2 separate regions of the Homo sapiens genome follow, and region 1 is linked to region 2. Evidence: fine-mapped expression QTL. A gene starts in region 2. The other region holds a variant in brackets. All regions are shown on one strand. Distances are between the middles of the regions.

The links. PIP is the estimated chance that this variant, and not a neighbour inherited with it, causes the effect.
Region 1: its variant is fine-mapped to the expression of PTGER2 in whole blood (TOPMed, PIP above 0.99).

What each region holds. Positions count from the first base shown.
Region 1 is chr14:52,348,096-52,356,435 of GRCh38, reverse strand. No RefSeq gene overlaps it. Among named protein-coding and RNA genes, the nearest start is that of PTGER2, 38 kb to the right of the region's middle. The variant C/A (reference allele first, on the strand shown) is at 4,619.
Region 2 is chr14:52,310,906-52,319,235 of GRCh38, reverse strand. PTGER2 (prostaglandin E receptor 2) reads right to left here and starts at 4,924. Exons shown (of 2, transcript NM_000956.4): 1 at 3,845-4,924. The coding sequence starts at 4,687. RefSeq lists enhancers at 4,030-4,169, 4,190-4,339, 4,574-5,133, 5,134-5,694 and a silencer at 4,860-4,969.

The sequences.
Region 1 (8,340 bases), 37 kb before region 2:
TATTTTTACAGAATAAATTCCTAAAAGAGGAGTTTGGGGGCCAAAGTCTATACACACATTCAAAGTTTTGATAGATAGTGCCTTCAAAGAATTGTAACATTTCCCACTTCAATGAAGGTTGAGTGAGAATGCCTGTTTTCTCACACACTCGCCAATGCTGTGCAGAATCAATGTTTACATAATCTTCATAACTTGATGCTTTGGTTACATTGGCACCAGTCCACCTTTACCCATCCCACTGAGCCTTCATGATGCCAGATGTGAGATGATTGAACAGAAGCACACCTGTTCTGCGCTACCTAGGGACTTGTTTCATGGTATTACGTGGATTTGCCATGCCATTCATGTTTGGCTCAGTGAGACAAGGGTCAGCCAAGACCCTGTCTTAATTTGGGTCCCCTCAGAAACAAACTCTAAAGATTTGGGTACGAGTAATTTGGGGAGGGAAATGATCCCAGGAAATACCAATGGGGAACTGGAGAAGTAAGATGGGAGGGGAAGGCAGCCTTTAAACGGTGTGTTATGGGGTTACTACGTGGGCAGGCAGAGCTCAATCCCCCTGGGGAACCCTGGCATCCAGTGTAGAACCGGCCTCAAAGTTATACCAACCGAGGAGTGAGGAAGTTAGAGTATTTATCTACCAACTACTCATCTTACATTGGACTGAGGATTACTCAGGGTCATGAACCCTGACACTTGTGACTTGACTTGTAGTGTGGCTAACTCCCTGACTAGGAAGAAAGCCATAAAGTGGAGAGCCACAAGGGCTGGGAGTTTCCGATGAGGTGAATGTTGAGGGGATATGGATGGGACACCAACAAAAAAGAGAAAAGAGAACCCATCTGAAAAAATGACCACTCACAAATCTTTGACTTCTGCTGTCTTCCTCACAGTATTACTCTCAAACTGTAGTTTTTCTACAAAAAGCAGAAATCTAGAAATTATTCTAATTACTGGGAGTCTGTTGCTATTTTTTTGTTGTTGGATTTTTTTCTTGCTAGTTTATGTTTCAGATGTGAATAAACGTCCATGAAAAAAATCTGGTAGCATTCCATGTTGAGTCATAAACATGTAGTCAAATTCCAGTTTGTCCTGGGCTGTTAATCTGAGTTTCATTTCTCAATGACTTCCTCCCACAACTCCTTTGCGGTTCAAATAGTCAGCCCTATGGCTCTTTTCTCATCAAGTGTTTGTGTCTTCTGTTCCTGCAGTCTTGAGGGGCTTTGTCTTCCTTTTATTCAGCTGTTGGGAGTGGTTTGTGGATAAGACCTGAGCAGGCTGAGTCCCCCTGAGTTCCATGGCCTCCAAAGCCAGTAGTGTGGAGTAAGACATAACATTGTGTGTATGCAATGGCTGTTGTCCAGTTTAGGGATATCACACATTTGGCTGTATACTTAGTGACTTGCCACTGAATCACAGCCTCCTCCGAAGGTGGACTGAACTTGTAACTTTTGGGCTAGAAAGAGGTGGATAATTAATTATTCTAATCACCATGTCCCCATTAATCAGTTGTGTTTCTTAGATGGGAAACTGGGCTTAAGTGCAGGCTTACAGGTGAAGGAAATTTAAAGAAAGGAAATAAAAGGAAAGGGTCAAATTTTGTGTCTAAGAACTATTTTCTAAGATTGGTTCTTATTAGTATAGATTCCAAGACTTCTCAGCTAACTTGGGAAATGCAGGGAACTGGAAAAGATGGGAGCTGGGTAAGGTGACTGCAAAGAATTACTGGTCCTTTAGGGTTAGAGGGAGATTATTTTAGGATCAGAAATATGTACTTTGGAAATGTGCCTGTTTTTAGAGTTTTGATTTTCCATAATTATTTCTTATGTTCTCTCTTATTTAGTTAAGTTTTAAAATATATCAAGCAAAAACCACTACAAAATGAAAAGCAACACAAGTATATGCATTTATAAGTCTAAAAGAAAATATTAAATGGGTCAAAGGGAACTAGGGAATGGGGCAGGGAGGGGATAGGGAAGAGTGTTCATTTTTGAGTCAGAGCTTCAGTGGGAATCAATATGAGGAAAACCTTAGCAGACTCCCATTCTGGAATGACTTCCTGGGGACTTTTCTTTTTTGCTAAAATCTTGGAAGATCTGTGTTTTACTCATAAGGGAGGCTCTTTTCTGTTATGATGTACTTTGTTTTACTTAGCACATGTAATCCTAAAATTACATTTATAAACTGCTTAGTAAAACTAGAAAAGTTAGATACTTAAATTTCACTACACACACACACACACACACACACACAGTGAGAGAGAGAGAGAAAGAGAGAGAAAGATGGGGTCTCTCCCTGTCACCCAAGCTGGAGTGCAGTGGCACAATCATGGCTCACTGCAGCCTCGACCTCCCAGCTTAATTGATCCTCCCACCTCAGCCTCCCAAGTAGCTAGGACTGTAGGCACACGGCACTATGCCTAGCTAATTTTTATATTTTTTATAGAGACAGAGTTTCACCATGTTGCCTAGTCTGGTCTCGAACTCCTGGGCTGAAGCAATCCTTCTGCCTTGGCTTCCCAAAGTGCTGGCATTACAGGCATGAGCCACTGCGTGTGGCCTCACTTCATATATTATCAAGGCACTTCATAGGTTATTGTTTGTGTAAATCCAAGTTTTGATTTACTAAGTTTGCTAAAGAAGGTGGAAAATAGTTACTCTTAAGTGTCTTTATTATCTAAAAATCTTAGTGATAGATTTTGACTTGTTTGCATCTTACTTTTTTTTCCTGGAATAAATTTGACTTTCTTGGTTTATTAAAAGAAATTCTGGTTTGTATAACTACTTGTCAGGCCATGAAATGTGCAAAACCATGCATCTTATACCTTTTTATTTTTTTATGTGACAGTTGCACTTTTGTTGTCCAGGCTGAAGTGTAATGGCACGATCTTGGCTTACTGCAACCTCCGCCTCCCGGGTTCAAGTGATTCTCCTGCCTTAGCCTCCCGAGTAGCTGGGATTACAGCCATGCGCCACCACACCCGGCTAATTTTTATATTTTTAGTACAGACAGGGTTTCTCCATGTTGGTCAGGCTGGTCTCGAACTCCTGACCTCAGGTGATCCACCCATCTCGGCCTCCCAAAGTGCTGGGATTACAGGCGTGAGCCACCACACCTGACCTTTATACTCTTTTATTTGTGGTTTTGTGGGAAAAGACCTTGACAATAATATTATTAATGTATTAAAAACATTTCCCCAGGATGTTTGATTTTTAAAAATAATTTATAATCTAAAATCTGTAGTGTCTAGCTTTTATATAAAATGTGAGCTACAATGTTAACAACATTGCCAAATGGCTTACTTTAGTCATTCTCTGAAGAGACTTCCTTCTTTGCTCTTTCTACTCTACCTCTCTGCTCAAAAAATCCCAAATAGTAACCTCATTATATGTTATTATGATGATTTATAGGAATGATTTATAATGTGGATTACTCTTTTTCAAAAGGATCTGGAGGGACGGCTTTTTTTGTAGAAGTTTTTGAAAAGAGCCACTTAATAAATAATAAGCAATGTTTGTGTTTTTTGCAAGTGTAGCAGTGGGGTGCAAGGAGAAAAAGAAGAGGACCATTAGAAGATGGGGATGGCTGTTTGTGTGAAGTTCTCATCTCTTGTGTTTTCAAGTCCTGAACGACAGGGATTATGTCTGATGCATGTTTGGTTTCCTTGTGCAATGCTTTGAAGTGTCTCCCTTCCAGGAACACACAATTCAAGAGAAAAGTAAGATAAGTACACAAACAACTATAGTTCTAAACAAATGAGCAATTGCGTTATTTGAAACGTTTTAGAGGCTATTTTAGAAAGAAACGCAGCTGTAGTATTGTCAAGTACACAGAGTAAATTGAATTCACTGCCAAGTATTATTAAATTTTAGTTACTGATGATGGCACAAGTTTTTGTTGAAATGTTAGACTTGTTTTGACCTTCAAATTGTGTTAAAAAGTTTTAACCAGTTTAAATTTGGGTGTATCAACATTTTAGTTTTCTGATAATTAGTTGGTTTGGGGCACACCGCACAGGAAAAGGAAGAACAGAGAGGTTTTACTCAGAATCAGACCACTGTGGTTGTTTTTCTCCCAGGGTGATACGTCTTTAGGGGCATAAAAGGGTTAAGGGAAAAATCGTAAAAGCACCACAGTGCTTACAGTCCCTGAGTTGCTTCACTGAATATAAAACCAAGAAATCTCCTGTTAGCCAATCATTAATCTAGGTGTTGACAGCCCATTCAGTTTACTGACATTTATATAAAGCCCAGAGAGCTGAAGAAAATCAAATCAGGTTTTAAAGCACTGGAAAGAATGACATAGTTAAAATATAAATGTCTTTCTTAAAAGTTGATCATTACTGGAGGGGAAAATATCACATCCCTGAGAGATGAAATGTTTCAGGTCAGTAATTGTACTCTGTGGGTTGTACCTATCTGGAGCTGCATAGAAATGTACTGATGTGGCCCTGAGCATCTCATGGGCCCTCCAGGGCGGAGGATGATGTCCTCCTGGGCCAGACGGCATCAGAGGAGAAAATCCACCCTGGGGGAAGATAAATGTTTTGTAATAAGTGTGAGCAATTGGCTGAAGGGAACAATTACTTTTATCTTTGCTACTGAGCCTCTGGATTCTG[C/A]CAAGTATATTTATGCTCCTTGGCAAAGACTGGATTTTAATTTCTTGGCAAAACACACACAGACATCTCTCTTACAATATCTAGTAAAAGATTCTACTTTGTAAACACTCATTCTACAGGGTTTAGAAGCTAGTGTGGGGGATTAGATCACATGTGCCTCCTTAAATCTTCAGAGAGGAAAGAATTCTTCAGGAAGGGAAAACTTCAAGGCAGTTAAGCAGAGGAGGTCTGCCTGGTGAGTTATTTAGTCTGGCTCCTCTCCTTTTAAGTGCTCTCACTGATTCTGAGAGACAGGTTGAGTTCTTGATGCCGTTTAAAAAACGTAGCCATACCCTCCAGCTCACCCTTCGGCTCCTCATGAATTCTGTGCCATCTTGGGCTTATCTTTGTTTCTAGCTGGTGTGAATGTGACGATGTAATTTCAGCACTATGAAGTCACTGAGAACACTGGAGCTAGCGGTTACTGAGGTTATTAAGTGTCACTCAGGGCAGAATTCCCTATTAAATTGAGCCAAGGATACAGGCATAAGTGAGCTCCTGGCACAGGGCACTAAACAAAACTGACAGAAAGAAAACTTTGGGTTGCTGAAACCAATGGCCTTCTCTTGTGAGCAAATGCTCTGACATGGAAAAATGCTTTGCCTAGTGAGACAGATTGCCTCCTGCCTGTGGCCATGCTACTTAGGAGGAGCCGTATGATGCGATCCTAAGGTCCGTGATCAGTGATTCTGAACAGCAACTGTTTTGTTCAAAGGTTTGTGATCTGGGACCCCAAACAGCAACTGTTTTGTTCAAAGGGAGAGGTGTTATGTAGCAAAATCATCAAGTTGATTTTTTTCCTAAGTGCTATGCATCTAGTGCATGGTAACATGTGGCCTACCTACTCTCAGCTCCTGAGATTACAGACAGGCTCCTGAGGCAAATAGCCCTTAATTAAGGTTCTGGTACTATTAACAAGGATTTAAATGTTCATAGTTTAAGCCCCCTTTTTATAATGAACAAAATGATTCTTTACACCCAGCCATACTAATTCTACAACTTCTAATCCTGAGCAAGGATGGCGAATTTGTGACACATATGAGATAGCTCTCCTTGTTTGGTGCCCTGGCAGACATTCATTCACTCATCATGACATTCCAATAAGTCTTCAGAATTCATGTCAACAGAGCGCTCAGGCAGCTGTTGCCCAAAAGGCTTCTTACAGGAGTATAAGAGTGTGTCATGGCATCCAAGAGCAGAAATGCAGGAATGGCTTGCTACTGGAACTTTTCATTTTATTGGAACCTGTCATCACTGTTCCTCCTTGAGCTTTTAGGGTAGGCAAATAATGACCCCCCGTCCCCCACCACACATAAGGTGTCCTAATTCCTGGAACTTGTAAAATGCTACTTTATATAGCAAAAGGAACCTTGCAATTAAATTAAATATCTTGAGATGGAGAATTTATTTTGGATTATCCAGGTGAGCTCAGTGTAATCACAAGAGTCCTTAGAAGCGGGTAAGAAGGTCAGAGTCAGAGAAGATGTGACCAATGGAAGCAGAGTGGAGTGATGTAGCCATAAGCCAAGGAATTCAGGCAGCCTCAGATGGAAAAAGCAAGGAAATAGAATTTCTCCTATCGCCTCTGAAAGAATGCAAACGGCCAGCCAATTTTAGACTTCTGACTTCCAGCACTGTAAGATCACACATCTGTATGTCTTAAGCCATTAAGTTTGTGGTAATTTGTTACAGCAGCAACAGGAGATTATACAGCACTCATCTCCTTTGTTTCTCTTTACTGAATGGCTTTTTCTGCCCTTTAGTTCACAGAGCAAAACATGGCCTCCCCAGAATGCCCAAGCTTACACATGGCAGGGACTGTCACACACGTAGATTCTGACTCAGCTTTCTCGTCTCCATTTCCAAATACCAAAAAGAGAATGTGCCCAGGACAGCTTGGGTCAGGGGTTTTCCCCTTGGTTGGCCAGCCAAACCCAAGGTGCAAGGCCATACCACATCATGTTTCTTGTTTTGTGTGTGTGTGTGTGTGTGTGTGTGTGTACCCATAAATATTAATATCTTGGTTCTTGTCCTTCAGTATAAAGAATTGCTTTCTAGAGATTTATAGCTAATTGTCCATGTGCTGTTTACATTACTGTTCTTAGTGTGAGATTATATATTTTTCCAAAATCACAATGACCACACTTATTTCTTCATGTGCAAAAACACAGTTTTCTTGATTGGGGAGTTATTAGAATCCTAATATTTTACTTCCATTTTTTTTGTTTGTTTTTCTCATGCCATCTTTTAAGAGCAAAAGATAGGGCATGCATCTTGATTCTTGATTAGATAATGCAGTCCATAATCCATGTAATTATCTGGCGTTGGCACTATTCACAACAGCTGCTAACTAGATACGACCTGTATGCCAAATAAATAGGATAAATTTCCTGCCCACAAGGTTATATTCTAACAAAGGAGGCTGTGTTCTAGAAAATTTTGAATAATGAGATTTGGGAAAGGATTATACATTTTATCGTGTACTCTGCTTAAAAAATAAGTATGCTCTTCTTATGTCAGAACATGCTGTGAAAATAACAGTCACTAATCTTACCAAACAGAAATTCCATCTTAATGCCATATTTACTGACATACAATATTTACAAATTTGCAGTGATTCTTAGGAAAAGAATTCCCTGCTTTATCTCCTGTGATATGGTTCAAAAAACCCAAGAATACTAAGTTAGGCTTCTGCAAGTTAGCCCTGCATTAGAAAGAAGTGTTTATTAGTTAAAAAAGTACCATGTAAATTAAGCATTCCTGTGTGCTGAGCAAGCAGGCAACGTGGACTCATACTTAGAGATCTGAACTGTGGAACCATGGAACTTCTTAGCCAACTTTGTCAGTAAGTTGTCATTTCCGTGTGGCTGTTTAAATGTTTAACACAGAATCTGCAGCCCAGAAAATCAACAGCAGATCATTTGTTAAATGAGTGAGTGGTGGTAACATTTTCCTTTTGGTATTCTTCAGAAAACATGAACTGGTGTCAGGCAAGAGCCTCAAAAGCAAATGGGCTAGGGATCACTTTTTCCCAGTTGTGATTAGAATAGCAAACGTAGTCTAAAAAACATTGATCCAACCTATAATATTATGGCTTATATTTTAGGTTTAAAATATACCTAAACCATTATTTAAGTTTAGGTTTATTTTAAACTTTATAATTTTATTTATTTAAATAAATAAATTTAAGCCAATAAGCACGTAACATGAACCCATGGACTATAAAAAATATTGGATGAATCAGAAGTGGGTAACAGTTTTTGTTCTGAATTTTGTTGCTTGGCAGCAACAGAAAGCAGCCTTAGTCGATTGCAGCGCGCACTGTCCTGAGCAAATGTCCAAGTCTCTGGGCCCTGCCCTATCCAGAGATCCCTGACTAGGGAGTGTCACCAAAGTTGTCATTATGAGGTCTCTTCAAATAAACCCAACTTGGCAACTTTCAATGCAGGAAATATCTGCCATTCTCTCTCTTTTTCTCTCTCTCACACATAAACGTTTAGTCAATTTCCTCACCGTAGCAAAATTTACACATTTATATACTTCATCTTTGCAGACTTGTGTCTTATTTCTCCACATTAATAGACTATTAGTTTTTTAATTCTAAAAAATTTCAGACTCACAGAAAGCATGGAAAGTATACAATAAAGGCATAGGTGCCCGCTATTCAGAATTAACAAATATCA
Region 2 (8,330 bases):
CTGACATGAAGAAAAAGGTCTTTGCCATTTTATTTTTAAAGCTAACTAGTTGGAATTAAGAGGCAAAGTGGTCCAGATATTTATAACATTCTCACAGCTCTTTTATGAAATCTTAGATTAATCTTCTCATCTGTTACCCCTGAAATGAGTACTTTCTCTTGGATAGTGTTGTGGTTAGGTTAATTGGCTCAGTGCTTAAATTGCCTAGCTTTGAGTCCCAGTTCCACCACCCATTAGCTGTGGGACACAGGGTGAGTCATTTGCCTCGTCTGTACGATAGAAATCATCATACTATTTCCTACGGTGCTGTGAAGATAATGGGTTAATGCAAAAGTTAGCATTCAAAAGTCTGATTTTGTGGTCGATAATAATGACATATGAGGTTGAATTGGACTTCACTTGAAGGGACTGGGCCTTTAAAAAAAACTACAGTTTTACTTCCAAAATTTTGGAAGCCCTAGACTGGCATCTTTGGAGGAAGCAGTAATTCCAACCTGCCCAAACCTTGGGACAATGCCTGACATTAGTAGTTCTAGGTTTCTGAATTCCCCCATTTCCCTCCTCTGTCCACTACTGGAGTGCTGTGGAATAGACTGGTGTCCCACTGGGTACAGCTGTCCTCCTTGTTGCCAGTGGTTTGGTCCACTTTTGAGGGACAAAGAAAGCAGCTTGTTATCCTGAGGAAGGAGTGGGAAGAGATAGAGTAGATTGCTACTATTTTCTGGGATACAAGGAAGAAACTTACTTGGAATAGCTTATTAATAATTATTTTACATAACTAATATTTTGAATTGATAATATTTTAGATATATTGGGTTAAATAAAATATGTAATTCAATTAATTTTCTCTGTTTCTTTTTACTTTTTGTTATATGACTACTAGAACATTTAAAATTCCGTTTGTGGCTTGCATTTGTGGTTCACACTGTATTTCTATCAGATCATGTGCACTCCGTTAGAGAAACAGAAACATTTCTGAAGGCAACCATAAACCTTTGCTTCTAGAGCCCCCTGTTAGGACATGTGGAAATGATTCCTGCTTCAGGTGGGAGATTGGTATAGGCCACTTCTGACCACAATTTTAGTGTGGGCCAAGTAGAATAAAAGGACTTGGAGGAAAAAGCAACCTCCCCTGGAGGCACATGCCAAGGATTCTGAACAGCAGAATGTATGAACCAAACAGTAGCCATGAGCTTGAATTTTCAGATAAGCCCTTCAAGAAATAACTTAAATCAAGATAGTACAGCATTTCATAAAGCTTAAAGTGCTATGTAAGTGAAAGATACTAGCAATTATTCCCAATAATCTATTGACAAAATAAAATCCATCAGTGGTCAATATAAATTTTCTTACTAAGAGGTGACAATGCTTCCAATTTCCATTTTGTGTATAGTTCATCTGAATATGGTGTCATGGTAGCTCCAACAATGGAAGTCAGGGAGGCTGGCTTTCTGATTATGTTCACACTAGGATTTTCTCCGGCTCTTTGGGAATCTTTGCCAGAAGCAAAAGCAGTTTGCTGATAGTGTCAATGCTTAGAGGTGGTTTGGGGGAGCTAAAGCCCCTTCATAGTCTCCATCTGGCTCCCCCTAAGCCATAAACAGGAAATTGAAATAAAAACACAGCTTCAAAGCAAAGCTCCTACTCCCTCAACACCTTTTAGCCAGATTTCTGTGGCTAAGCCCCTTCTATCTGGCAACTCTGGAGCAGCCCTTGGCCTAATATTAACTGAGGGAGGGAAAACAATATCTATATCTATATCCACACACATATATTTGAATTTACAAAAACATAAGGCAACGATGGAATTCTCATGGTAAAAGGCCAATTTACATGAAAACAGGGCAACCTGTTGGAAACCACTACCTTTATTTAAAAAAAATACAGTTTATGCAATGGGTCAGTCATGATCAAAGAGGAGAACTTTTTCCTCTTGCTCGTGTAGGAAAGAGACTAAAAATCGTTTCACAAGTGTGTTATCACCCCAAACCCATTCCCAGGCTATTTAAGTAGCTGATAGTGGGGGATATTTTTATAAATATACTCACAAATGACAGATAAAACCCTAAGAACTGATTATCTTAATTCCCAACACCCTAAGACAGTCTTTCAGGAATAGTTTCTGATCCCCAAGCTGAATGCAAAGCTGTTTGGTGGAACTTGAAATGCTTTCTTTCATAGATATATGTTCTGCATCCTAGTGCTGACCTTCAAAAGCTGATTTAGCTCCTAACATAATCAAAAGCTCCTACCAGTAAAATAAATCAAAAGCATATAAGCCATGTGGGTTTCTACATCACAGCGTTTCTGTTGCATAAACTCCCCTGCTCAGAGTGGTATGGGAGATGCAGCCTCCCACAGTCCGACTTCATTTTATAAGAGGGCGTCTTTGAATATTCTATCTCATTCCCTCAAAGTGTAACCAATTCAGAACAGTTTCTGCCCTGACAGAGGATGGGGTAGAAGGGTGAGGACAGTGGGGACCAGGGAGAAGAGAACGTAGCTAAGGGAGTTAACTGGGCTGGGGAGGAGAGAATCATATTCAGACCTTTGGGACCCTGTGTCCCTTCCCATCCCTGAGGATGAGCACATGAAGATGTAAGAAGCAGTAATGGAGGCAGGAGATAGGATAAAGTTACTTCTCCTCCAGCTTTTACAGGTCAGACCTGTTAATAGTAGGCACTGCCCATCTCTTTTCTCCAAGATTGTGGCAGGTGGAAGTCACTATTAACTGCTTTGATGCTGCAGCATCAGTCTTGCTCTTCTGAAGATTAGGAAGTGGAGTTGCCACAACTCCCAATTCCTAGCCCCCGTAAGAGGCCAGCACATTCTCGGACATATTCCAGGCTCAGCTAAAACGTTACACTTGAGGAGACTTGAACTCACAGCCTCATATCATTTAGCAGTTAGTTAGCATCAAATAACTGCTAAAGTTGCCCCAAATCAAGGCAGCACGATGCCAGGACTTGGTCTCTTGTCCTTCAGTTCCCCAGGTAGCCCCACTCTTCCCTTCCTGAGAGGGACCAGCCATTCCTGCCTGTGGCTTTGTGCTCATCAAGTGCATAACTGTAAGCTGAAGGACACCTGTGTGTATTTCTGACAGTGACATTAAGAGCGTGTTTTGCAAGATATTACAAATGCTTAGCAAGATGTTCCTCCAAGTATTTCCTCTAGTTATCATTATGGTTTTATAAACTTTCATGGCCACAAAGAGTTACATTCAAATATATAAATTGGGAAACCTATAAACTAGATGTTTGTTGGACTTTTAGGACAAATAACAAATGCTCTAAACTTCTGCTTCAGGGACCCTTCTCATCTGGGACCATTTTCAATGGCAGCTGGAATGCTATGGGTTGGGTACTACATTTTGCCCTGGCAGGAACAGAAGGCAAGCATGGAGAACCAGCACCAGTGGATGAGAGGTACAGGGCAGCAAACTGCAGCTCCAGGTCGTCAGGCTGGAACAGTGACAGCCATCCTAAGGTGGAAGGGGCTGCCTCTTTCTCAATTACTAAGCCAAGATAGGCAACAGCGAGAAAGGGACACTGCCCAGGGCTAGGATGAGGAGATTGGCTAGCTTAGCTGAGGCCCAGGACTCCCTTTCGGACGGTCTGTATTATTGTATAAGAAACTCTAGCCTAGCAACGCCCATAAGCCAGGATAAGGAAGTGGGCTAAAGAGGAGGGGAAACTAGTGGGGAAGGCTACAGATCTTTACAAATTAGGACATATTTTTACAAGTTGCAAAAAGTTTGTAGGGCGGTGGAAAGGGTGGAGGCGTCAGGGGAGAGCATGAGAAGGCTGAGCAGAGCCGGGCTGTGGAAACGTAGGGAGTGACTTACCGTGAAAGGCAAGGAGCAGACGGCGAAGGTGATGGTCATGATAGCCAGGAGAATGAGGTGGTCCGTCTCCTCCGCCATGGACACCCTTTCCCCTCTCCTGCGGGCCCCGGGGCCGCCCCGGCCACTGCCCAGGGAAGGTCCGCAGCGGCTTCTCCGGCTTCGGCGGTGCATGCGGATGAGGTTGAGAATGACACTGAAGTTGCAGGCGAGCACCGAGACAATGAGAAGCAGCAGCAGGGTGGCGTACAGCTGCAGGTAAGCGGTCCGCCCGTGCCGGATGAAGCACCAGGTCCCGGGGCAGTACTGGACGTACTGCCCATAGTCCAGCAGCGGCAGCGAGCAGAAGAGCAGGGAGACTGCATAGATGACAGGCAGCACGGCCAGGCCCCCGGAGCGCGAGACGCGGCGCTGGTAGAAGTAGGGGTGCCCGATCGAGAGGTAGCGCTCCAGGGCCATGGCGAAGAGCATGAGCATCGTGGCCAGGCTGAAGAAGGTCATGGCGAAAGCGAAGTAGGTGCACGCGCGGCTCTCGGGCGCCAGTGCCACCAGGGTCTGGTTCCGCGCGTACGAAGCCAGTACCACTGGGCTGATGAGGCAGGTCCCGAGCAGGTCGGTGAACACCAGCTCGGTCACCAGCACGTGGAACAAGGAGAGGGAGCTCCTGCGGCCGGCGCTGCACCCCACGTCCCCCCGCCAGCGGCGCGCCAGCAGCGCCAGTGCTATGAGGTTCCCCAGCACCCCGGCCGAGAACATGACGGAGCTGATGGCTGGGCTTTCGCCTGGGGGAAGCCACTGTCGCGTCTCGCAGTCCTCAGACTGGGAGTCATTGGAGGCATTGCCCATGGTGGGGTGCCTGGAAAAGAGATGCGCCCTCCTCTCCCGGCCTTTACCTGGGAGGAAGAGGGTCTGAGAGCCGGAGCGTTCCGAGACTCAGAGGAAAAAGGGGAGGGACCGAAATCCAGAGCCCCCTTCCCGCACCCAGCGCGCCGACGGCGGCTTGCCCTGGGTCTCCCGCCGCGCGCCGAGTGGCGGCTCGGCTGCTGCATCCGAGCGGCGCTCGAGGCTCCCGCGCCTACCCGCGCCGGCCAAGGCCGGGAGCCAGAGCCTAGGGGAGCCGTCGTCTCCGCCCCCGCACTGTCGGGGGGCGGGCCCAAGAGTGCTGGCCAGGCCTTGCAAGTGCGAGTGTCCGCGAGCTGCAGGGGAGGCAGGACGCGTCACACTCGCGGGGGCGTTCCGAGTCCCTGGGGCGCGCCGGCGGGGAGGGAGAGAAGGAGTCTGAGCACCCGCTGGGCGCGGCACTGGGCAGAGGCGCGCGTGTTGCCGGTGTACTGAAGCTGCCCGCGACCGGCGGGAGCGGCGTTTCTCGCTTCCTCGGGGTCCGGTACTCGAAGCGCACGGCAGTCTGACCTCGGCTGGGAAGCGTTAAGCCCCAGCAGAGGGCTGGGAGGGAGTGCAGGAGCACTTGCGGGGTCTGCGCAGAATACACAGAAGATCGGGGCAACGAGCAAAGCAAAGCAACTCACCAAACAATGAAGTTAGGAGAACCCAATCCCGTGAAATGAGCGGAACAAGGGAATAACAGTGCAAAGGCAGCTTGAAGTAAGACCAGAATGTTTTGCTTTGTTTTTACTATTCCCAGGAAGATACACTAAGAGGTTGGGACAAAAATTGGGATGAAGCGTAAAGCAAGTGTGTCCATCCAAGGAACCAAACCACACAATGCGCACCACCGAGCGGCCTGTTGCACTGCCGCTTTGATTCGGTTACTAGCATTTCACCGTTTCCTATGTCAACAGCATAACGGATAACCACTTGTTTAAGCAACCATTAAAAAAAGAGGAGTGTGTCTTATACAGAATTGTGTTTGTGGATACAACATGAAAACCATTGCACATCACTGTTCTGTCCTTAAGCTGAGCCTTGTAAGAAAATGTTGATATTTTGTTTAGCCGTTTATCTTTACATGTTGTTAACCACGTAGTATCCATCCAGAAAGACTTGTTCCTGGCAAAGTGTATTGGTAAGTGGCCAGTTTCAGACTGGAGCTGACAGTAATGGTTTCCTACCACATATTGTCATAATTGCAGAGTCGTGAAAATGGGCTGATATTTAACACAAAACAAAACAAAACAAAATCCAGTTTGGCAGACAACATAGGTAATTGTGTTCTGTAAGAAGTCACATTCACTTGGGGAAGGGAGGCCAACTGGGAAGTGAAGGGTCTGATCTGCCTAGGGAACTGGCAAGAAAGACAGTCATAACGTGGGAGGAAGCAAAGATTGCCTGCTGAAGAGCCTATCTTGCTACAGCCTGCTTACTCTCCATGAATATTTTTTGCCAACTTTGATGATTCTGGCCTGGGGATTGGAATGCGGAGTTGGGGGGGGTGGTTCCCACTAGAACAAGCATAATTTACTGGATCGCTTGCAAAGTTTACAGGCCGGTTTTCACATGTCAGCAGGCACTACTTCAATCCCTAAACTTCTCATGGCATGGATTCCTAGGAAAGAGGATCTTAACTCCTACAGTTTTTCTTTCAAGCTGTAAACTCTGCAGGTCAGTAACAACTTATTACCAATCTTTGCCATCCATCTCTGACTATTCCCCTACTCCAACATTCCCCCATCTCACCCCAAGCAATGGGGAAACATCAAACTTAAATCAGAAGTATTTCTTAATAGGAAAACACTATGATTTATAGCATAATTCTGCACTGCAGTTTTACTATTAAATAAGGGATTTTAGATTCACTGAATTTGCACAGTGCTTATTTTCCGAATATTTTTATACCTTTTTAATTTTCATAAGGCCCCTCACAACAAAAACCTACTATTTAACCTTTCCTATATATTTGTCTCTAGCTTTTCTTTGGATGGGTACCTGGTGGCAGGCCGGCCCCTGGTTTTTGTGAATACGAGAGCAAGAGTGCAGTTGAAGATCCTCCCCCAGGCCCCTGCCCCCTTGTCTTCCTAACCCCTGACTCAGTCTTGCACCACAAGGAGTCTTGCACAGAAATATGTGGAGAGTATAGTTCAATATGTGGACAGTATAGTTCAATATGTGGACACTATAGTTGTTGATAACCAAGCTCTCTCCCCAAAGCCACCTTGGTCCTGGGAATATGCATCTCAAACATGCAAATGACCCTTGATTGGATGGACCTAGGGAAGATGCCTGATCAAGCCCTGGAAGCGAGTTATGGGACCAACATTTGAGCAGGAAATTTCATGATCTCAGGTACCTGGAAGGTGGTCTAGAATGGAGGGGTAATGGGGTCTGGGTGAATAGTGCCCTGAGGGTGTCTCACCTGTGGTAAGGTATGTGACAAGAGGAAGACTAGAGTGGGCCCTATAAATCTTGGGAGGCCAGTATCCTATTAATTACTGTGCTGCTCAGCATTGCTTGTTCAAATTACTCCTTTTAATTGCTTCCAGCATTTGGACAGAATACATACATATGTGTGTGTGTGTGTGTGTGTGTGTGTGTGTGTGTGTTTGGTTTAGCAGTTTGCTGTGTTCCCTGTTGCTAGATTGCTGAGTAGGAGAGTTGATAAGTTTGCTGTCGCTACGTAGCAACTGGACCATCACGTTTGTTCCTTTAAGTGCAAGTCTAATCTTGCTTGTCAGTTACCCCCAGTTAATTTTGTGGTTTAAAAGCTACTTCTTCCCATTTCTAATTTTAGTGTCAGCATTTTGATACAGTTTCAGTTTACATAGAGCCTAGAGTTCCTTAACAGAAAACAGATTAACACCCTCAATTCTAGAATTGAGCCATAGAGCTTTGCTAATTGTTTAGTTCCTGTTTGTGGGGCCATTGTATGTGGGGAACACTATGTGATGGTTAATTTTATGTGTCGACTTGACTAGGCCATGGGATGCCCAGGTAGCTGGTTAAACATGATGGCGGGGTATGTCTGTGAAAGTGTTTCTGGAGGAGATTAGTGTTTGAGTTGATGGACTGAGTAAAGCACATGCCCTTCTCAGTGTTGGTGGGCTTCATGCAATCCATTAGGGCTTGAATAGACTAAAAAAGTAGGGGAAGGTGAAATTCACTCTCTGCCTCACTGCATGAGTGGGGACATTGATCTCCTGCCGCTGACACTTATGGTTTTCAGGCCTTCAGACCAGGACTGGAATCTACACCACTGGCTCTTCAGCTCCCAGACTTTCAAACTTTGTCACCAGCTTTACTGGGTCTCCAGCTTGTACATGACAGATTGTGGGACTTCTCAGCCTCCACAATTGCATGAGTTGATACTTTATAATAAATATCTTTATGTATATCCATCCTACTGGCTGTTTCTCTGGCAAACCCTGACTAATATACACTTCTTAAAGTCTAAAGTTCATAGTGTTCATTTATGTATCCATGAATTCAAAGGACTGTGGAAGGTGGGTTACTTCCTTTAGGTCATTCTTCAAGAGAAAGCAAAGATAAACATGAAGGAAAGGAGAATTGCTTGGGCAAAAAGCTAACATTAATTCTT